Linked DNA regions of Homo sapiens. The protein of the gene in region 1 purifies or fractionates together with the protein of each later gene. This does not show direct contact. Each region holds a gene or a part of one and is shown on either strand. Other genes may lie near its edges. The genes, in order: ALCAM, UGGT1, RAB35, COX5A, NIPSNAP3A and TSPAN15.

Region 1 (3,500 bases):
TAATAACTGAATTCCAAATTGAGTAATAATTATACAAAAGCCAATTTAGTTTAGTTTGGTAATCAAAATTAAAAGTATTAGGTGGTAAACAATAAGACTATAAAAGAAAAAGTAGCTGATTGTTTAAATACATTTGCTTATAAGAAAATAGAATAATTTTGGTCCATGAGACTCACAAACATCAGTGACAATGAGGCAATATACTTTTTGTGTAAACTAATTGTTGGAGCTATTTAAAAAGCGCAAAATCCATCATTGATAGAAAATAGCAGCTAAGAATAAAATAACTTAAAATCAGTTTAAATAATAAATTGTTGCTGCAACTTTTAATCAATTGCTCCTGAAGTCTTTATTAAAATTTATGTTTCTTAGAACTACCTATATTTAAAATGTTTTTGTCCATCATCTCAGGTTCCACATTTGAAAGATTTTCTCACATTTACACTTTCATATTGTGACTTGGCTTAAGAGGTAAAGTTAGAGATATTTCAGAAATTTGGGTTTATAAATTCCTTAACTTGCTTTCTATTTCCCATGATTTTAGAACAGTGTTTCTCAAACTTTATGGTGACTGAGAATCCCCTAGAAACTTGTTTAAAATGTAGAGTTATGGGATTTTTTTTTTTCAGGAATTCTGATTCAGTAGGCCAAATAGGGCTCAGAAATCTGAATTTTAAACAAGTATCTTTGTGATTCTGGTTCATGTAAATTAATGTCTTCAGTTAATGAGCTGGAAGTTACTGATAAGTAAGAAGTGCTCATGGTAATCAATTAGAGACAATATATCCTATATAGGACATTAGCCCCTGTTTCACTATCAAATCCATATTCACTATTTATAAAGCATTCAGAAAGCATTATTTATATTTTATTCAAAGGAATTACAAGCACTGAAAATAATATTTAAGATAATAAATATTTGAAGGGGTAGACCTATAGATTCCCCAAATCCAGATTGTATAACGAAATCTATTTTTATTCTGTTGCTTATTCTTCTGTATTGAGTAAATGAATTGTTTTTGCTGTGAATCAAATCACAGAAGTCCCGTTTTTCTTACATATGTACTTAAAATCTTTCTCTGCTTAACTTTAGAGCAACCATCTAAACCTGAAATTGTAAGCAAAGCACTGTTTCTCGAAACAGAGCAGCTAAAAAAGGTAAGAATTGTTTTTGATTAATACCTTTATTTAGCCAGTGTTGTAAGTGCCTTCTTCTGACCTTACATTCCAAGACAAGTAAGAAAGGCTTTGCTCTTGTGGAGATGACAGTGTTGCAGCTACCAATCAGAAATTATCTACAAGGCACAGAGGGTACAACATGCTCACAGTCTCAGGTAACCATGAGGACATCAAGGAAGGTGGGGTCATTTCTGAAAAGAGGAGTCTTTCTCATTTGAATTAATGGATTGTTTAATAGAAGGATGAAGCCAGTTAGCATGATTCATGCCTGTAAGCCCAACAGTTTGGGAGGTTAAGGTGGGAGGATCACTTGAGCCCAGGAATGTACAGCATGGCAAGACCTTGTTTATAAAAAATATTTAAAAGTTAGCTGGGCATAGCGGTACATGCCTGTGGTCCCAGCTGCTTGGTAGGCTGATGCTTGGTAAGGAGGACTGCTTGAGCCTAGGAGGTCAAAGCTGCAGTGAGCCATGTTTGCACCATTGCATTCCATTGTGGACGACAGAGCCAGACCCTGTGTAGAAAAAATATATAGAGAGAATGATGAAAGATGAATAGATTTTCACCAAGCCAAAGGTAGAAATGGCTTTCCAACAATATGAAATAATAGGATGTGAAAGAGAACGGTGTGTTTGGGAAACAGCAAATTTTGGCATTGATGAAACTGGGTGCCAAGACAGAAAACAAGAAAGGATAGAAAGAGATGAATCTGGAGAGGCAAAGAAAAGTTGGATCATGACAAATCTTACATACTAAATAGGGAGTTTGGACTTTATTCTGTTGGCAAATTATGCTACTGAAAGATTGAAGTAAAGAGGTGAGATCAGATTCGAACAACACATTAGCAGATATGTGAAGGGAAGCTGTATTAAAGTGGGGGACAAAGTTGGAGTTCCATATTGAATAATAATGTAACTAAAATACCAAAGTTTTCCTTTGTTGGGAGATGGAAACCCAAGTCCTACATTCTTTGTGTCATATTAAATTTTACTGCATAAAATTATTTGATGAATACCAAATATTAAAGTTAAAATACATTTAAAGAAAGTGAGGGGAATTATAGAGCATGATAATGTATATCCTCTTGAAATATATGTAGTATGAAACTGGAGACACAGCCCCATTTTAACACCAAATTATTCTTCCGTATGAAGATCTATGATTCATGGTAATAGTCAGTGTTAATAGAGTAATGTTATTTGGTTAATGTTAAAAATGAATAGTGTCAAAATGAATTTGGCAATGCTTTCAAATGAATGTGATTTTATAATAGTGACACCATCTATTGCACATTTAAAAATCGTCAAAAGTATATTTTCAAATAAATTGTTAAAAAGGTCTTAAAAAGACATTGTTTTTATACCAGAGAGCATGTATTCAGTCTTTGGTCAGTGTTGGAAAATAAACGGGTCAAGAAACCCTTGGAATAACTCTGCATTGCCTGAGTTTCTGGAGTTTCCAAATTGACAGCCCCTGATTGAACCAAGGTAATAACATTGCCTTTTTATTTTGCAGTTGGGTGACTGCATTTCAGAAGACAGTTATCCAGATGGCAATATCACATGGTACAGGAATGGAAAAGTGCTACATCCCCTTGAAGGAGGTGGGTGTGAGGGCAGGAGGACAGGGAGTACATTCAGAGGACCTGTTCTGACTTTCTTTGTTCTAGGTATTCTTTAAACCAGTGGTCTCCAACCTTTTTGGCACCAGGAACTGGTTTCATGGAAGACAATTTTTCTTTGGATCAGGGTGGGGGGATGGTTTCAGGGTGATTCACAGGCATTAGGTTTATTGTGTACTTTATTTCTATTATTATTACATAGTGATATATAACAAAATAATTATGCAACTCACCATAATGTAGAATCAGTGAGAGCCCAGAGCTTGTTTTTCTGGAACTAGACAGTCCCATCTAGGGGTGATGGGACACAGTGACAGATCATCAGGCATCAGATTCTCATAACAAGTATGCAACCTAGATCCCTCATATGTGCAGTTCACAGCAGGATTTGCATTCCTGTAAGAACGTAATTCCACAACTGATCTGACAGGAGAAGGAGCTCAGTCAGTAATGTGAGCCATGGGGAGTGGCTGTAAATACAAAAGAAGCTTCTTGTGGTTGCCCACCGCTCACCTCCTGCTGTTTGCACCCATACCAGTCCTGGAGGTTGGAGACCCCCGCTTTAAACTATTCAGGATCTAAATATGTTGCCCTCTTTTGAGCTATGACTCTTATGCTCTGTTACTTTAAGTATGTACTAAATTAATACATGATTTTTTAAACATCATTTTCAGCCCTTGTACAGAAGAATCAAGAGCAG
Region 2 (3,500 bases), on another chromosome or scaffold:
AAACTGAGCAGGGAGCAGTCAAATTTCCAAAGAGCAGGTACAGGCAATGAGAGTCACAAAGTATGGAGCAGAAGTAACTTCCCCACTAGGAGACATGAACCTCTTTTGGATCAATCGAGTGGAAAATACTCATCTATGCCAAATATAAGTGTGAGATGTAGCTGCACAAAGTAGAATGTGAAAGGCCCAGACAGAATCACAAGATGCAAAAAGGAGGGATGGATGGTGCTTATATCTCAGTTTTTCCTTAAAAACATAACTCTTACAATGTCAACTTACCATTTGAAGGAATCCCAAAATCCAGATTCATTCTCACTCGTTCCATCACTCAGCAAGTCTTCGTTCACCATATCTGCCTTCTTCTGAACCTGCAATCAAATGTGATAAACCTTACTCCCAGTATGTCTCACAGGCATAAAACTGCCTCTCACTGGATATACACTGTGAGCCTGTCATCAATAGGGAATTATCAATCAATTCTCTCACAAACAGGCACAACCCCACCCAGAGTCTAGAAGGATTCAATAGAAGTATCTTCGCCAGGACATTCACATCATAACCTTATGTGAGGAGACAGCAACCTCTTTTAATTAGATGAACCCCATTTTCAGCTTGCAACATAGGCAAAGAGCCGCAAACTCAACTGTGCAGTGAAACCAGAAGCACGATTCAATGAGTCAACAGCTAGTTCCAGGGAAGAGTGTGGCTGCTGGGGGCTCTAGCTGTTGGGAGGGAGGTATTTCATGTTATGACCAGTTTTCAGGATTCACTAGCACAAACAGGGGTTTCTTCTTGGCAGTACAGTGACCATTTTTCTTCTCAACAATGGATGGCCTATTTTAGGTTTCACTGTGTGTAATGATTCTTTCTTCAAGAATATACTGTACTTGAATTTAAGGCACTAAGAGCTTCAACATTCAGAGAACGGAAAGTACAAGTCAAAAGAAATTAAATAGGACTATCATTTTATTATTGTTGAAAATTTCCATTGCCAGTTCCCCCAATATTGAGAAAAGAATCATCAACAACACTATGAATTGTGGCTATATAAACAACATAGCATCTATGAGAATATTTTATATAAGATGGGACATGTTCTGCACACCGAGATTACCCAAAAGGTACAATCTTTCAGTTGAGGGAAGCCACAAACTCACAGTTACAAAGACATTTTGCCTTAAAGCAGTATCCCTATAATTGCCATAGCAAATTCCAAAGAGACTCTTGGGCTGGTTCCAAGATACATATTTTTAAATGACAGCTGTCCAATAACAGAATGCCACTACTTTTACCAAACTCACCTTCACTTTAATAATTTTGCTTTTGAAGTTGTTGAGGACGATAACCACCTCATCAGCATCAGGGGGAGAATCAGTGCCATCGTGGCTTTGCGAGAAAAGAAAGATCAATATTACAAGGCACAATTCTCAAAAGGCAGCAAATGCTCTCAGAGCATCTGAGTCCATCATCCTTCTCATAAAGGAGTTTTCCAGATCCAGCTATCTTCTTGCTCCTTAAGCTCCTTCGAGCTGCACAGAAGCACGTGTTGAAACCTCTCTTTATATAAGGTGCATGCCCAAACCTCCTTTGTGAGTCCTCTTGCAAATTACCCATCACGTAGTGAGAGGCACCCATGTGTGGTAACCACATGGTGAGTACTAAACAACCGCCTGTGTTCACAAGCTCTGAGCCAAGCACAGAGCCTTCGATAAAGGAATGCAGGGAACAGGCCCCCTGAACCATTATTGGAACCACACTGCCTCCGCTCTTTTTTTTTTTTTTTTTTTTTTTTGAGACAGAGTTTTGCTCTGTTGCCCTGGAGTGCAGTAGAGCAATCTCGGCTCAATGCAACCTCCACCTCCGGGGTTCAAGTGATTCTCCTGCTTCAGCCTTCAGGTAGCTGAGTTTACAGGCACCCACCACCACGCCTGGCTAATTTTTGTATTTTAGTAGAGACAGGGTTTCACCATAGTGGCTAGGCTGGTCTCAAACTCCTGACCTTAAGTGATCCACCCTCCTCGGCCTCCCAAAGTGTTGGGATTACAGGCGTGAGCCATCACCCATCACTCCCGGCCACTACTCTTTAACTGGAATAGTGTTGTAAAGGAAATCTGCTCGCTCTTTCTGCCGGAGGCAACAATCAGTCAACAATAGGCCCTGTACTCAACCTGGTGTCTATACGCTACCAGAAAAACTGTAACAAATTCTATTTGCAGGCAGACAGGAGCAGAGGAAGAAAAATTAAATGTATGTTTCCCTACTAATCAACAGCAATGCCTAAAATTTCCAGTCACCAAATTTCAAGGTGCAGAAAGTCATAATTACAACATGAATTCACTGCATTTGCTGTCATCTAGCAGAGAGTAGGGTTCTCAGGCAAAGGAAGATTCTAATGGGGGTGGGGCCCTGAACAGCTAGGAAGAGGGGGCACCATGCTCCTGGGAAGGGGAGGGCTGGCAAGGGCCAGGGCATCCAAAAGGGAAGGAGTTCGGAAGTGCATCCCAAATTTTGTAAAACCTTATCTGAGGAAAATGTTATGTGGGAAAAAACCTTCTACTGTTTACAATGGTGTTATTATAATACAGAATTCTTCTATTTCCTGGGTAAGAACCAGGCACTAATCCACTGTTTCATGTGTGTCGCTACGGAGCTAATTAAGGCAAGGACATACTACAGAGTGCTTCAAATGTGCCCTAATGGAAATCATCCCCTACACAACCTGACGGGAAGCCTCTTCACACAGTTTAAAACTAATTTAAATTGTGTTAAGCAGAATTTATATCAAACTTTTTTAAAGGCAACATAATTATTTTTAAACTAATAAATATGTGCAGTAAACCTTAAGGTAAAAGCTGGCTATAGAGGGAATGTTCTTACTATGCCACCACAGACCAAGGAATACCAGCACTAACAGCACAGCTTCAAGACCAAAGCTTCCATGTACTGTGCATTTGCAAATCACTCAGGGTCAACACATACACTCTCTGGGCAGAAAAGTGTGGCTGTTCTTTCTTTCTTTTCTCCTTTCTTCAAGTTTCTCATCTGCCTATCTATGAGCCGCATCACACTGATAGAATGATTTGATTCTGGGATATTGTTAGCACAAAGGAATAATTAAAGAATAAAGCCTGACTATACTCATTAGCATCTATACCTCTTATTATCTAATTCTATTCTAACAATTCTTCCATATTTAATTTCCTGGAAAAACCACTGTTTCATCACATACAACTGCAAATTAAATTCATGTTGCCTGGCTAACTGCCAGGGTAGTATTCAATTAGAGCTAATGCTCATTTCTAAAAGTTCTGGGATAATGTAACTGCATCACTTACTCCTACCTGTAAATTCTATAAATATCTTCAGAGCGTCCCTTCCTAAGTCTGAGGATCCAAGCTCCTGGGTTGGCTTTCAGCTGAAAGTAGCCCTAGGACAAGAAGAAAAGTCCAGTTAGCTCTCTTCAAAACACCAAAATGTTATTTCTGAGGAACAGTTACTTC
Region 3 (3,500 bases), on another chromosome or scaffold:
GGCCTGCAGCTCAGCCACAAAGGTGGGCAACCGGTGGGCGGCCGGATTTCCCAGGAACAGCTTTAAGGGTAGGGAAGGGCCTGCTGACATGCACCGTGTTCGTCTCTAGACAGCGTCACTTCCAAGGCATCAGTGCAGGTGACGGGAGCCTGCACAGGCCAACTCCAGCTGCCATAACTGACACCTACCAAGAGGAATTGTCAGCGACTAAGTCCTGGGTGGGCAAGGCACTTCGCAACCCCCTAGCGAGGCAAATGCTATTCTGCTCTCTCTGTAAGGTGACGGCACAGTGGGCCGGAGGGTCGGCTGACTCTCCAAGGAGATAGAACATGGCCACTGTCCGGCCAGACTCCAGCCAGGGTGCTCAGCGACTCCCCCACAGCACCCCCCTCACATCTTCAGGACCAGGAAGGGTGCAGCCAAACGCCACCTACTACAGCCAACAACAGGCTCACTTCCCGACAGCCTCAGGGACCCACCAGTGACATTTCCACCATGACCAGGCACCGGTCGCTCAACTGTGTCCACAGGTCAGTGGCGCGGGTTGGGTGGGAGTGGGCGTGTGGACTCACGTGGAGGTGATGGTGCGGAAGCGCTCCTGCCCCGCTGTGTCCCAGATCTGCAGCTTCACCTTCTCCCCGTTGATCTCCACGGTCCGGATCTTGAAATCCACTCCGATCGTGGTGATGTAGCTGCCTGCACACACAGGGCAGTTAACGAGGCCCAGCGCGGTATCTTCCCAGGCCCTGAGCCCCACGCTGCACACAACACACCCCCAGGCTCCCCCACCCTCCCGACTCATTACATGTGCCTGGTACATTCTAGGTCCCAGGGACACAGCCCTGAACATCCTTGTTCACAAGGCCCCTCCACACACAAGTGAAGGAGGGAGACAGGATGCAAGCAAACAAACAAAGAGGACAATTTCCGAGAGTGAAAAGTGACACATAGGAAATAACACGGGATGGGACTGGCGGGAGTGGGACAGGCTCCTTTAGAGTGGCTAGATGGGGACACACCAGCTATGTCTGAGAATGGTAGACCTACGGGCACTCTGGGTTTTTCTTTTCTATTCAAGTCAAAAAAAATTTAGGGCCCTCAAAATTCACTTCCAAACACACAAATAGGTCATGAGCTGCAGTCTGAAAGCCACTGCTCCAGGCAGGGGAGACAGTAGCAAAAACAGCCGTGAGTGGGGGCGGTCACATGAGGTCAAGCCTGCCGCCCAAGGCAGGCAGAAAGTGGCGAGGCCAGATCTTGGACCTGTGTGCCACTTCCAAGAACGTGGACTTTCTCTCGTGTGTGCTGGGGAGGCACCAAAGGGTTTTAATCAGTGGCATGAGCTGCTGCATTTTAAATAGCTCTCTTGCAGCATCTGTGGGAAAAATGGATTTTTTTTGGTGGGGGGGGGACAGCGTCTCATTCTGTCGCCCAGGCTGGAGTGAAGTGGGATTGCACCCTTGACCTTCCCCCAGGGTCTGATAATCCTCCCACCTCAGCCTCCTGAGTAGCTGGGACTACAGGCATGCGCCACCACGCCCGGCTAATTTTTGTGTTTTTAGTACAGACGGGGTTTCACCATGTTGCCCAGGCTGGTCTCAAACTCCTGACCTCAAGTGATCCGCCTGCCTCAGCCTCCCAAAGTGCTGGGATTACAGGCACAAGCCACCGTGCCCGGCCTGAAAGATGGATTTGAGGAGAATTTCTAGCCGGTGTAATTGCCCAGTCCAGCTTTCCAAAGCCTGACACTAGGAAGAGCACAGCTTCTCACTCCATTTGGGGCTTATGCTATAACAGTGCAGGAGACACCACACACACACACAATTATGTGAAATGTGGCAAGGGCGTAGGAAAGGTCAAATTCCAAGGTGGGGTGGGGAACAAGGCAGGCTTCAGGGAGGACGTCACATCTGGGCCTAGCTTGAAAGAACAGGTAAGACTTCAAAGGTTGAGATTAGGTAGGGGAACGACATCCCACTCAAAAGCAAATAGCTGAGGATGATACGCAACCAGAACACATTCAGAAAAGCGGCCAGCACCCGGGGTCTTCCAGCCAGGGGAACGCCAAGGAGTGCAGCCCACTGCCTAGCACAGTTAGGCTCCCCAGAAACAGCTGGTGGCTAACGAACCAAGCAAGCCAAAGAACAAAAGAATGACCAGGGGGTAGGAGGAAGCCAGAAAGGCGAACTGAAAACAGACTACGAGCGCAGTGGTTCTCAGCCGGGATGACTGTCCCTCCAAAGGACACTCAGCAATGTCTGGAGGCATTTTTGGTTGTCACAGCAGGGGGAGGGAAGTGTTGCTGGCATTTAGTGGGTGGAGGCCAGGGATGCTGCTCAACATCCTTCGACACGCAGGATAGCCCCACAACAAAAATCACAGGGCCCAGACCCGGCGCGCTGGCTCACGCCTGTAATCCCAGCACTCTGGGAGGCCGAGGTGGGCAGATCACGAGGTCAGGAGATCAAGACCATCCTGGCTCACATGGTAAAACCCCGTCTCTACTAAAAATACAAAAAATTAGCCAGGCGTGGTGGCGGGCACCTGTGGTCCCAGCTACTTGGGAGGCAGGAGAATGGCGTGAACCCGGGAGGCGGAGCTTGCAGTGAGCCAAGATCACACCACCGCACTCCAGCCTGGGCGACAGAGCGAGACTCCGTCTCAAAAAAAAAAAAAAAAAAAAAAAATCACAGGGCCCAAAGGGTCAACAGTGTCCAAGTGAAGAAATCTTACTGTAAACTCTGTGCAGGTGAGAGGGGCCACTGAGGTTTTTAAACAGAGAAAAGACCCTACCAGACACACACATGAGCGGTTCAGGGTGGGTAGGGGTTGCCGTAATGCTTCCAGGTAGAACCAACAGTAAACTGAGATGCTGGTCGTAGAAATGGAAAGGTGGGAAGAGATTGCAACAACAAGCCCTCCAAGCACTGAACACAGATTGGGATGGGGAGGGAGGAGGCCATTAAGGAGGAAGAGGAACATTTTTTAGCATAATTAGAGGCTGTTAATCAGCTATCATTCTTAAACAGAAGGTTAACAGCCAGTCGCAACAAATAGCTGGTATTTATTGAGCAATTACTTAGTCCCAGGCACTGCAACCTGCACTATCTCAGGTCATCCTATAACAACCCCATGGGGAAAGGACCATTATGATTTCTACTTTACACATGAACTGAGGCTTCTATTTTACAAATGAACTGGCTAAGGTCACACAGAGCAGCCATCTCTTTCTAACACCACACCACTAGTGAGATTGCAGGGACAGTGTCAAGGAAACAAAGGGGGCAAAACCCACTTCTCCACCAAGAGACATCAGCTATGGAATCACTTTCTTTTTCTTTTTTTTTTTTTTTTTTTGAGACGGAGTCTCACTCTGTCGCCAGGCTGGAGTGCTGTGACAAGATCTCGGCTCACTGCAACCAACTCCCTGGTTCAAGCGATTCTCCTGCCTCAGCCTCCTGAGTAGCCGGGATTACAGGCACATGCCGCCACACCCAACT
Region 4 (3,500 bases), on another chromosome or scaffold:
GTTCAAGGTAGGCTTTTGAAATACCTTGAGAATAACTGCAATTGGACTAAATCCAGAACATCTTAAAGTCTAGAATTACTGGAAAAGAAGGTAGTGATGACAGAATTTTGTGAAGGCAATTAGACATGCCCAGCAGGCAACACGAATAATTAAGTTAACGGGAAAAGTTTTTTCATTTGCCTCCAATTTGAGACCTTAACTGAATTAACTACCAGTGCTGAATGGATTGATAGCCTACAGAACCCTTAATTATCTTACCCATTATAGATAAAGTAATGTCACACTTTTGCTGTTAACGGACCTTAAGTTTCTTTCTTACAGACCACAGTATCTTTTCATGGAGAGCTGTACTTTGAGAATACATATGTCCAGGGCTGGAGACTTTTCACTGTAATATATAGTTACACCTGTGCTGTCACAAGGTTCCTTAGGAACGAATAAGAAGTCAAAAGAACTAAGAAAGTGCCGGCCGGGCGTGGTGGCTCACGCCTGTAATCCCAGCACTTTGGGAGGCTGAGGCGGGCGGATCAACTGAGGTCAGGAGTTTGAGATCAGCCTGACCAACATGGAGAAACCCCGTCTCTTAAAATACAAAATTAGCCTGTAATCCCAGCTACTCGGGAGGCTGAGGCAGAAGAATTGCTTGAACCCAGGAGACCTCGGAGGTTGCAGTGAGCTGAGATCACGCAATGATTGCACTCCAGCTTGGGCGACAGAGTGAGACTCTGTCTCGAAAAAATAAATAAACTCAGAAATTATGACCAAATAAGAAGGAGGAAAATTAGTATATATCCTCCTATGTTTTCATATAATGTATATATATATTTTTTGAGATGGAGTTTCTCTCTCTTGTTGCCCAGGCTGGAGTGCAATGGTGCCATCTTGGCTCACTGTAACCTCTGCCTCCCGGGTTCAAGCAATTCCCCTGCCTCAGCCTCCCGACTAGCTGGGATTACAGGCATGCACCCCCACGCCCGGCTAATTTTTTATTTTCAGTAGAGATGGGGTTTCTCCATCTTGGTCAGGCTGGTCTCGAACTCTTGACCTCAGGTGATCCACCTGCCTCAGTCTCCCAAAGTGCTGGGATTACAGGCGTGAGCCACCGTGCCCAGCCGACACAAATATGTTTAAAGTCAAACACATTTCTACAGTATCAACAGTTGTGTAGTATAACCAGTTCTGGGAAGCTCCCTCTTAAGAATTCCTAACATTTCGTATGACAAATAGCAAGAAGATGAATACACTTTGTAGTTAAATCTTTATATATCCTTTATTATTTCCTTGATAAATTCCTTTCTTTTTTTTTTTAGAGACGGAGTTTCTCTCTTGTTGCCCAGGCTGGAGTGCAATGGTGCGATCTCAGCTCACTGCTACCTCCGCCTCCCGGGTTCAAGCAATTCTCCTGCCTGGGCCTCCCAAGTAGCTGGGATTACAGGCATGTGCCACCATGCCCAGCTAATTTTTTTTTTTTTTTTTTTTTTTTTGAGACAGAGTCTTGCTCTGTCACCCAGGCTGGAGTGCAGTGGCGCTGTCTTGGCTCACTGCAAGCTTTGCCTCCCGGGTTCACGCCATTCTCCCGCCTCAGCCTCCTGAGTAGCTGGGACTACAGGCGCCTGCCACCACACCCGGCTAATTTTTTTGTATTTTTAGTAGAGACAGGGTTTCACCGTGTTAGCCAGGATGGTTTCGATCTCCTGACCTCGTGATCCGCCCGCCTCGGCCTCCCAAAGAGCTGGGATTACAGGCGTGAGCCACCGCGCCTGGCCTAATTTTTATATTTTTAGTAGAGACAGGGTTTCACCATGTTGGCCAGGCTGGTCTCAAACTCCTGACATTGCATGATCCACCCGCCTTAGCCTCCTAAAGTGCTGGGATTACAGGCATGAGCCATCACACACGGCCAAGATAAATTCTTAAAAAAGAAAGAAAAAAAAAAAAGAGAGAAAAAAGAAAAAAGATAAATTCTTAAATGGAATTGCTGAACAAAAGTGTATCATGTACAATTTGTAAGGCCTTGAATAAATGCTGCCAAAGTAGCCTCTAGAAAGATTTTAACTGCAATGTACATTCCTTCTAGTTATATAAGGACTCATTTTAGGCATTTTAACAAATTCAAAAATACAGAATATTCTGATACCTCAGCAATAGCCCACTCATTTACAGAACAATTTTAGCATTATTATTTCACTGACCTTAACAACCTCTAGGATACGAACTGTACTAGCAAAATCATTTAACCGTCTGCATGCCCGCAAAGCAGCATCAATGATTTTGGGCTCTGGAACCATATCATAGGTAACAAGTGTGTTTATCCCTGCAAAATTAAAAAGAAGGGCCATGTCAACCTCGAAGAGCCTCACTTAAACTATGAGTTATTTATATTTTTACTGAATCACTGATGTATGATCTTATCTGTCTGGGTCTCCATTCTCTTACCTATAAAATGAGAGAAACCTACCTTTAACAAATTCTAGATAATAAGATCACAGTGGATCTCCCTTAGTGAATCAGTGGAAAGAAAGAACTATGCAACAGCACGCAGATTGAAGGAAAAAATCCTGAGTTTTTTTTTTCCCCTTTGAGAACAAGAGGGTCATTTTCAACTCCTAACTTTTTTTTTGGAGATGGAGTCTTGCTCTGTCACCCAGGCTGGAGTACAGTGGTGCCACCTCAGCTTACTGCAACCGCTGCCACCTGGGTTCAAGTGATTCTCCTGCCTCAGCCTACCAAGTAGCTGGGATTACAGGCGGGTGCCACCAAGCCCAGCTAATTTTAGTATTTTTAGTAGAGACGGGGTTTCAGCATCTTGGCCTGGCTGGCCTTGAACTCCTGACCTCGTGATCCACCTGCCTCGGCCTCCCAAAGTGCTGGGATTACAGGCATGAGCCACCACATCCGGCCCTCCTATCTTTAACTCTTAGTACAATGAACACATTTTGGATGCTTTAAAAGAGATTCAAGGCTGGGCTCAGGTGGATCACCTGAGGTCAGGGGTTCAAGACCAGCCTGGTCAACATGGAGAAACCCTGTCTCTATTAAAGATACAAAATTGGCCGGGCGTGGTGGCACATGCCTGTAATTCCAGCTACTCTCGAGGCTGAGGCAGGAGAATCACTTGAACCCAGGTGGTGGAGGTTGCAGTGAGCTGAGATCGCGCCATTGCACTCTAGCCTGGGCAATAAGAGAGAAACTCCATCTCAAACAAAACAAAACAAACAAACAAAAAAACCAAAATAAAAGAGATTCAACTGGAAAACAGCCTAAAAACAGCCAGAGAAATGCGTAGAGTTAATGAAGCCTAAATGAGGACATTAAGGAGATATTATAGAGAAACATTAGTACACAGACTCATAAACATTCAACCAGAAAATGATTGGGCATGATTACTTTCAGATCTGCACAAAATGACACATAATAAAATTTAAGATTCTCTTAATGGGAATACATAATTGTTCTTTTTATTACTTCTACTCCAGATTGTTCAGTAAGAATTCTATTGG
Region 5 (3,500 bases), on another chromosome or scaffold:
ACATGTATATCGATTTCTGTATTACGTATGTATTACATAAAGAAGGTCATACTACATTTCCAATGTTTCTTTAATGTAAACAATATTAACATAAACTTCATTTGAGCACAACTATGTGTTTATAATAATACTTTCGATGACAACTACTGACATTTATTGAATGATAACTATGTGTCAGGCCTAGTTTTAAGCATTTTAATGTATTAACTCATTTAATCCTCATAATAATCTAGGTCCTCATAATAATCTATCATTTTATAGATGAAAAAACTAAGGTATGGTGAGGTTTACTTACCCAAAGTCAAAAAGTAAGTAGTGTACCTGGGATTCAAACCCAGGCAGTCTGAATCTGATTATTTCCTTAATATAAAGTAGAATTTAAGTTGACAGAACCAAAGAGCATGTCTTATATATATGTACTTACATATAGTGTATATAGTATACACTGTCCTCCAGAAATGATGTACTGATTACCAATTCTCCTAACACTGAGAATGAATTTAAGATTAAAAAGTGTATGAACACACATTTTCTGTAGTTTTTAAAAAAATAAAACTTAATATGTGCAGTATAGAAAATTAAGGTAGAGGCTAGGTGTAGTGGCTCAGGCCTCTTATCCCACCACTTTGGGAGGCCGAGGCGGGCGGATCACCTGTGGTCAGGAGTTTGAGACCAGCCTGGTGAAATCCTGTCTCTACTAAAAATACAAAAATTAGCTGGGCATGGTGGCACACAGCTGTAATCCCAGCTACTTGGGAGGCTGAGGCAGGAGAACCGCCTGAACCAAGGAGGCGGAGGTTGCAGGGAGCTGAGATCGTACCTGCACTCCACAGAGCGAGGCTCCATCTCAAAAAAAAAAAAAAAAAAAGAATATTAACATAGAGACTTAACCATTTATCTCACTGAAATATGACTACTATGTATGTTATATACTTTCAAATTTCTTTTCTGTATAATTTAGCACACCTATACACATACACACCCAGGCATATTTTCTAGAAGTAATACTGGCAAAAACAATAAAAATAAGGCTTTTATTTTTATTGTCAAATTTTGGGGGAAGATTAAGCTAATATGAACCCTACACAGTATCTGAGTACTTATTTTTTCCTGACCTAATACTATATCCATGTAAGTATACCTTTTATAAGGTAAAGAAATGGCATCTCATTATTGTTTTAATATGCATTTTCTTTAATATATATTTAGTAGCCATGTGCATGTCTACTTTTGCATAAATTTTTATTTTTATTTTTGCTTTTGAATTTCATTTATGGTGATTTTCAGGCATCCAGATAGTTTGAGCCTTTGTATAATAAAATCATAAGTTGATTTTTTTTTCTTCATAGTTTCTTCATTTGCTTTTGGCTTACAAATATAGTCCCAATCCACATTATTAAATAAATTCATCTACATTTTGTTTTACCAATTTTATGAATTAAATTTTTTTCATTAAAATATACAATCCAGCTTGACTTTATTTTCGCATATGGTGTGAGATAGGCATCTAATAATTTTCATAACAGTTTCTCCTCCATGTATTTTCCAACCTGAATATACATCTGTTTTTATATATTCTATTTTCTTATGATAGATTATTACAAGAAGTTGAATTTCTGCATAAAGATGGGTATATTAGGTTTGAGATGTCCATTGGACATAAAGAGATAATAGAAAGGCAACAGGATATTATGATGAGTCTTTCAAATATTTGTTAGCTATTCTTAGACATTTATCCTTTCTTCGTTACTTTTTTTTTTTAAGAGACAGGGTCTCACTATGTCGTTCAGGGGTTGGAGTGCAGTGGTGCAATCATAGCTTACTGTAGCCTTGAACTCCTGGCTCAAGCAATCCTCCCACCTCAGCCTCCCAAGTAGCTAGGACTACAGGTGTTTGCCACCATGCCCAACTAATTCTTAAAATTTTTTTTGTAGAGACAAGCTGTGTTGCCCAGGCTAGTCGTGAACTCCTGGGCTTAAGCAATCCACCAGCCTCAGCCTCCCAAAAGCGCTGGAATTACAGGTATGAGCTACCTCATCAGCTCTTTTATCCTTTCAGATAAACTTTACAAATGTTTTTCTGAATTTGCCACAAAAAATCTTGAAATTCTGATTGAAATGTTTTTCAACATTACAAGTTAAATACCCCAAGTATGTGTTTTATTAAATAAATTTATATCCATATATAAATTTACCTCAATATATATACATATTTACTATATCTCCCTATATAGATATATATAAAACTGGTGGAAAATGGGTAAATTTTTATGAGGGGGGTTTTCATATTTATACAAAACATATATTACTTTTTTGCTTAGAGATAATCTCCCTACCCCAAATAATATTATTTTTAAAAAATCAATAAAAGTACATTCAGAGGAAAAAGAAATGATGAAAGTAACAGACTATTTCTTGAGGTTCCTTCATTTTTTTTTTTTTGAGATGGAGTTTTGCTCTTGTCACCCAGGCTGGAGTGCGATGGCACGATTTTGGCTCATTGCAACCTCCGCTTCCTGGATTCAAGTGATTCTCCTGCCTCAGCCTCCAGAATAGCTGGGATTACAGGCCCCCACCACCATGCCTGGCTAATTTGTTCTATTTTTACTAGAGACGGGGTTTCACCATGTTTGCCAGGCTGGTCTCGAACTCCTGACCTCAGGTGATCCACCCCCTCAGCCTCCAAAAGTGCTGGGATTACAGGCCTGAGCTACCGTGCCCAGCCGAGGTTCCTTCAGTTTAAAAAATTTAATCATTTTGATGTATCAGGGAAAACAGCTATTCAGCATTTGAAGGTTTCATAAGTTAACATTCTAAATAAATAAGATGTAAAACAGATTTTCTCAATTTTAAAAATTACAAAAAACTAAACATTTGGCAATAAATAATAAAACATACTCTATAATGAGAAAGAACCTGACCCAAGGAACTTAGGTCACAATATATATTACAATTTCATATAAGAAGAAATGGACAATTGTACCTCTGTTGAGTGCTCCGTACTCTGTGTGGAACACTCCAACTAGTTTTGTGTAGCCTAGATTGACATGAGCATGAACTGCCCTTTTAAATGCATCACCCCACAGAGCTGGCCCACCAGGTTTCATCTGAAAAGTGGCCAGTTCATAGACTCCTGGAATAGGGAGAAAAAGAATTTTTCAGAAAACATTCAAGCAATATCCAATCACGTTTCTCAGTGAATAGTCTTTCACTATCTACACACACAGATTTGGAGGATCAGACATGCATACATATTATGTAGACATGTTTATTATATTTGCACTCTCTGCTTTTATGCTTAGAAAGTCCTTGCCCATGTTTAAGAGTGAGTTGTTATGCTTAATCATACAGATGACAAAGAAAAAGAACTGGAAGCTATTATAACTATTATCTGAAATATTTTTAATCTATAACATTTGTTAAAAAACTGTTGAGAATGTATAATGATATAGAATTTTGAGCTGCAAAAGTCTATGCTTTTAGAAAATAAAAGAATAAAAG
Region 6 (3,500 bases), on another chromosome or scaffold:
TACACCTGTCTTACTTTAATCTCTTAATCCTGTTATCTTCGTAAGCTGGGGATGTATGTCACCTTACGGCCACTACGATAATTGTGTTAACTGTACAAGTTGATTTTAAAACATGTGTGTTTGAACAATATGAAATCAGTGCACCTTGAAAAAGAACAGAATAACAGCGATTTTCAGGGAACAAGGGAAGACAACCATAAGGTCTGACTGCCTGCGGGGTTGGGCAAAAAGAGCCATATTTTTCTTCTTGCAGACAGCCTATAAACGGACATGCAAGTAGGGAAGATATCGCTAAATTCTTTTCCTAGCAAGGAATATTGATATTAACACTCTGGGAAAAGAACTGCATTCCTAGGGGGAGGTCTATAAACGGCCGCTCTGGGAGTGTCTCTCTTATGCAGTTGAGATAAGGACTGAAATACACCCTGGTCTCCTGCAGTACCCTCAGGATTGGGAAACTCCACCCTGGTAAATTTGAGTTCAGACTGGTTCTCTGCTCTCGAACCCTGTTTTCTGTTGTTTAAGATGTTTATCAAGACAATATGTGCACCACTGAAGGTAGACCCTTATCAGTAATTCTGCTTTTGCCCTTTGCCTTGTGATCTTTGCTTTTGCCCTTTGCCTTGTGATCTTTGTTGGACCCTTATGAGGAGTTTCTGATTTTTCCCTTAGAAGCATGTGATCTTTGTTTTCCTTTTTGCCCTTTGAAGCATGTGATCTTTGTGACCTACTCCCTGTTCTTGCACCCCCTCCCCTTTTGAAATCCTTAATAAAACTTGCTGGCTTTAAGGCTCAGGTGGGCATCATGGTCCTACTGATAATGTGACGTCACCCCCAGCGGCCCAGCTGTAAAATTCCTCTCTTTGTACTCTTTCTCTTTATTTCTCAGCTGGCTGACACTTATGGAAAATAGAAAGAACCTATGGTGAAATATTGGGGGTGGGTTCCCCCAATACCTAATGACTTGTTCTGACTTTTCATAAGTAGATACTCAGAGTTACCAGGGCCCATGGCACTGGAGACTGAACTTGTTACATTGTGGCTCAGAGAAATCCTCTTGATCAGGGAAAAATGGAATTGGGAAATCACCTCCTCCTGGAAGCTGACCTTGATTGCTCCTCACCTTTTTCTCCATCATACACTGCCCTTCCTACCATCATCAACAGCCAGGCCGCTCCTCCCCCATCCCCGCCACTGGCCTGACTCCTGTTTTACAAAATCATATCACATTAGAGTTGGAAGGGATATTATTTTTCTTTTTGTGATATTTTCCCCTTGATTATAAAAAAAAATTGAGAGCCAAGGAAAAATATAAAGGGGAGGAGAAAAATCACCCTAGTCTCATCCCTCAGAGGAAATATGAGTTCATATGCTGATATTTCCATTCCTTTAAGTCTTTTTGTAGACCTATTTTTTTCATTGTAGCGATCTTACTGCATTTATAATTTTGTATCTCATTTTTTAAGTTTTCAAGATGACGAATCATGGCTTGAGCCTCCAAACAGCGGAGAGGCGTCAGTGAGGACCCTTCCTGGGCTGCATACCAAGGCCCTACCCATGAGGGGACACCACCCAAGGGGAAGGAGCACCCTTCACGGACTACAGCATCTGCAGGGTCTGGGGATGATGAGAAATTGTCAGGCCTGACCTCAGGCCCACGGAAACCCAAGCTGTGAGCACTGAAGGGCCCCTGGATGTTCCGCCAGCCAAAGCCTTCATCTCAGCCCAGCTCCATCACTTGAAAGAAGGAGGTGATGTTCTGTTGACCTACAGGGCACTGGAAAATGACAAATCAGATGGCCTCTGCAGCAATGCACTAGAAACCAGAACTGCTGCCCATCATTGGAGGATAGTTTATGAAGGCCGTGGACGCTGCTGACCACAAACTGGACCTGGGCTCCAGCCAGGAAAGTGCTAACCCTGGAAAGCCTCAGGGCGGCCGGGAGCTCTGCTGGCTGCACAGAGAGGCAGCCCCATGGGCAAATGGAATAAAGATCTCTCCCCTCACAGCTGCTGAAAAGTAAACCAGCATCCTGGATCTGCCAGCTCAGAAGAGAGGCTCTGACAAATAGAAAAGAGGGACAGGGAGGGGCAGGTAGCAAGTCAGGACTGGGAAGCATTCCTGAGGCACCTCTGCCTTGCTGTGTGCTCTCGGGGGAATTCTTAACTCCTGTGTGCCTCCATGACTCCATTGATAGGATGGCCACTTGCCCCTGTATGAGTGGAGAAGCCACTTCAGTCTGACTGTCAAGCCATGCCTAGCAGCAGAAACCATGCCCGGGGTCACGGGCTGGTGGAGATTCCTCCTTATATCCAGGAGTCTGTTTAGTTGGCCACAAACTGGACCTGGGCTCCAGCCAGGAAAGCACTAACCCGTAGCCCCTGGAAAGCCGCAGGCTGGCCAGGAGCTCTGGTGGCTGCACAGAAAGGCAGCCCCATGGGCAAATGGAATAAAGATCTCTCCCCTCAAGGCTGCTGGAAAGTGAACCAGCATGCTGGATCTGCCAGCTCAGAAGAGAGGCTCTGATAAGCAGAAAAGAGGCAAAGGGAGGGGCAGGTAGAAAAGAGGAAAAGGGAGAAGCAGCCTCATGGGCAAATGGAATAAAGCCCCTTTCCTGGGGCTCATAAAACAGGAAGACCTCTGGATTCCAGGTTTGTAGACTTGCCTGTGGTTAGGTCCCACTGCAGGAGGCCCCAGCAGAACTGGTGTGGTCCCTGCTCCCACCTGGGCTGGAATCACAGGCACTCCCATGAACATTTTCACAGGGCCAGATCCTGGGCCATCTGAGAGGTCTGCACAACCCAGGGTGTGGGACAGCACCTGCTGCCTTAAGAGCAACTGCTGAAAAGAAAGATAATTTGGCTGGGCACAGGGGTGCATGACTGTAGTCCCAGCTACTTGGGAGGCTAAAGCCGGAGGATCACTTGAGCCCAGGGGTTCGAGGCTGCAGTGAGCTATGACTGCACCACTGCTCCAGCCTGGGTGGCAGAGTGAGACCCTGTCTCAAAAAAATAAACAAACATTATTTTTAAAAAAAAAGATAACTTGGCTCACAGCTCTGACGCATGTCCCAGCAGCAACTGTCCAGATGCACCAGGACCAAGCTGTCTGGGGTAGGGAGGGGTACAGGCCAGGCAGTGGACACAGAGAATGGGGCTTCTGCAAACATGTCCTGCTCCTCAAGCCCCACCTATGGCAGCAATGCAGGATGAGGACAAGGAAGAAGATTATGGGAGGAAAGATGGAGCCCTGGGTTGGAGTCAGCCCTGCTCCACCACCAGCTTCTTGTGGGGCCTTGACCACTATGTGCCAGAACCGTGCCCAGTCCTTCACAGGCATTCTCTCATCAGATCTGTGAGCTAGGTGTCCCCTAATAATCCAAGAGGCCAAGTAACTCGCCCAAGGTGGCACAGCTAGTATGAGGTGCGTACATCCTGCCTGAAGGAGCTGGAGCCGGGAGCCACGAGAACCTTTCTGGCTCTAAGGGGCCCGGATTCTG

Evidence for each region.
Region 2: the proteins of ALCAM (region 1) and UGGT1 fractionate together in Homo sapiens (co-fractionation; one large-scale study listed by BioGRID). This does not show direct contact.
Region 3: the proteins of ALCAM (region 1) and RAB35 purify together in Homo sapiens (affinity purification with mass spectrometry; one large-scale study listed by BioGRID and IntAct). This does not show direct contact.
Region 4: the proteins of ALCAM (region 1) and COX5A fractionate together in Homo sapiens (co-fractionation; one large-scale study listed by BioGRID). This does not show direct contact.
Region 5: the proteins of ALCAM (region 1) and NIPSNAP3A fractionate together in Homo sapiens (co-fractionation; one large-scale study listed by BioGRID). This does not show direct contact.
Region 6: the proteins of ALCAM (region 1) and TSPAN15 purify together in Homo sapiens (co-immunoprecipitation; one large-scale study listed by IntAct). This does not show direct contact.

What each region holds. Positions count from the first base shown.
Region 1 is NC_000003.12:105,530,909-105,534,408, forward strand, and holds part of ALCAM (CD166 antigen isoform 1 precursor), read left to right. Parts: intron 1-1,093; coding exon 1,094-1,158; intron 1,159-2,694; coding exon 2,695-2,782; intron 2,783-3,500. UniProt on the Homo sapiens protein: Cell adhesion molecule that mediates both heterotypic cell-cell contacts via its interaction with CD6, as well as homotypic cell-cell contacts. Promotes T-cell activation and proliferation via its interactions with CD6.
Region 2 is NC_000002.12:128,174,700-128,178,199, reverse strand, and holds part of UGGT1 (UDP-glucose:glycoprotein glucosyltransferase 1 precursor), read right to left. Parts: intron 3,428-3,500; coding exon 3,342-3,427; intron 1,387-3,341; coding exon 1,302-1,386; intron 369-1,301; coding exon 280-368; intron 1-279. UniProt on the Homo sapiens protein: Recognizes glycoproteins with minor folding defects. Reglucosylates single N-glycans near the misfolded part of the protein, thus providing quality control for protein folding in the endoplasmic reticulum.
Region 3 is NC_000012.12:120,103,254-120,106,753, forward strand, and holds part of RAB35 (ras-related protein Rab-35), read right to left. Parts: intron 697-3,500; coding exon 573-696; intron 1-572. UniProt on the Homo sapiens protein: The small GTPases Rab are key regulators of intracellular membrane trafficking, from the formation of transport vesicles to their fusion with membranes.
Region 4 is NC_000015.10:74,924,574-74,928,073, forward strand, and holds part of COX5A (cytochrome c oxidase subunit 5A, mitochondrial precursor), read right to left. Parts: intron 2,315-3,500; coding exon 2,193-2,314; intron 1-2,192. UniProt on the Homo sapiens protein: Component of the cytochrome c oxidase, the last enzyme in the mitochondrial electron transport chain which drives oxidative phosphorylation.
Region 5 is NC_000009.12:104,754,183-104,757,682, reverse strand, and holds part of NIPSNAP3A (protein NipSnap homolog 3A), read right to left. Parts: intron 3,133-3,500; coding exon 2,983-3,132; intron 1-2,982.
Region 6 is NC_000010.11:69,485,965-69,489,464, reverse strand, and holds part of TSPAN15 (tetraspanin-15), read right to left. Parts: intron 1-3,500. UniProt on the Homo sapiens protein: Part of TspanC8 subgroup, composed of 6 members that interact with the transmembrane metalloprotease ADAM10.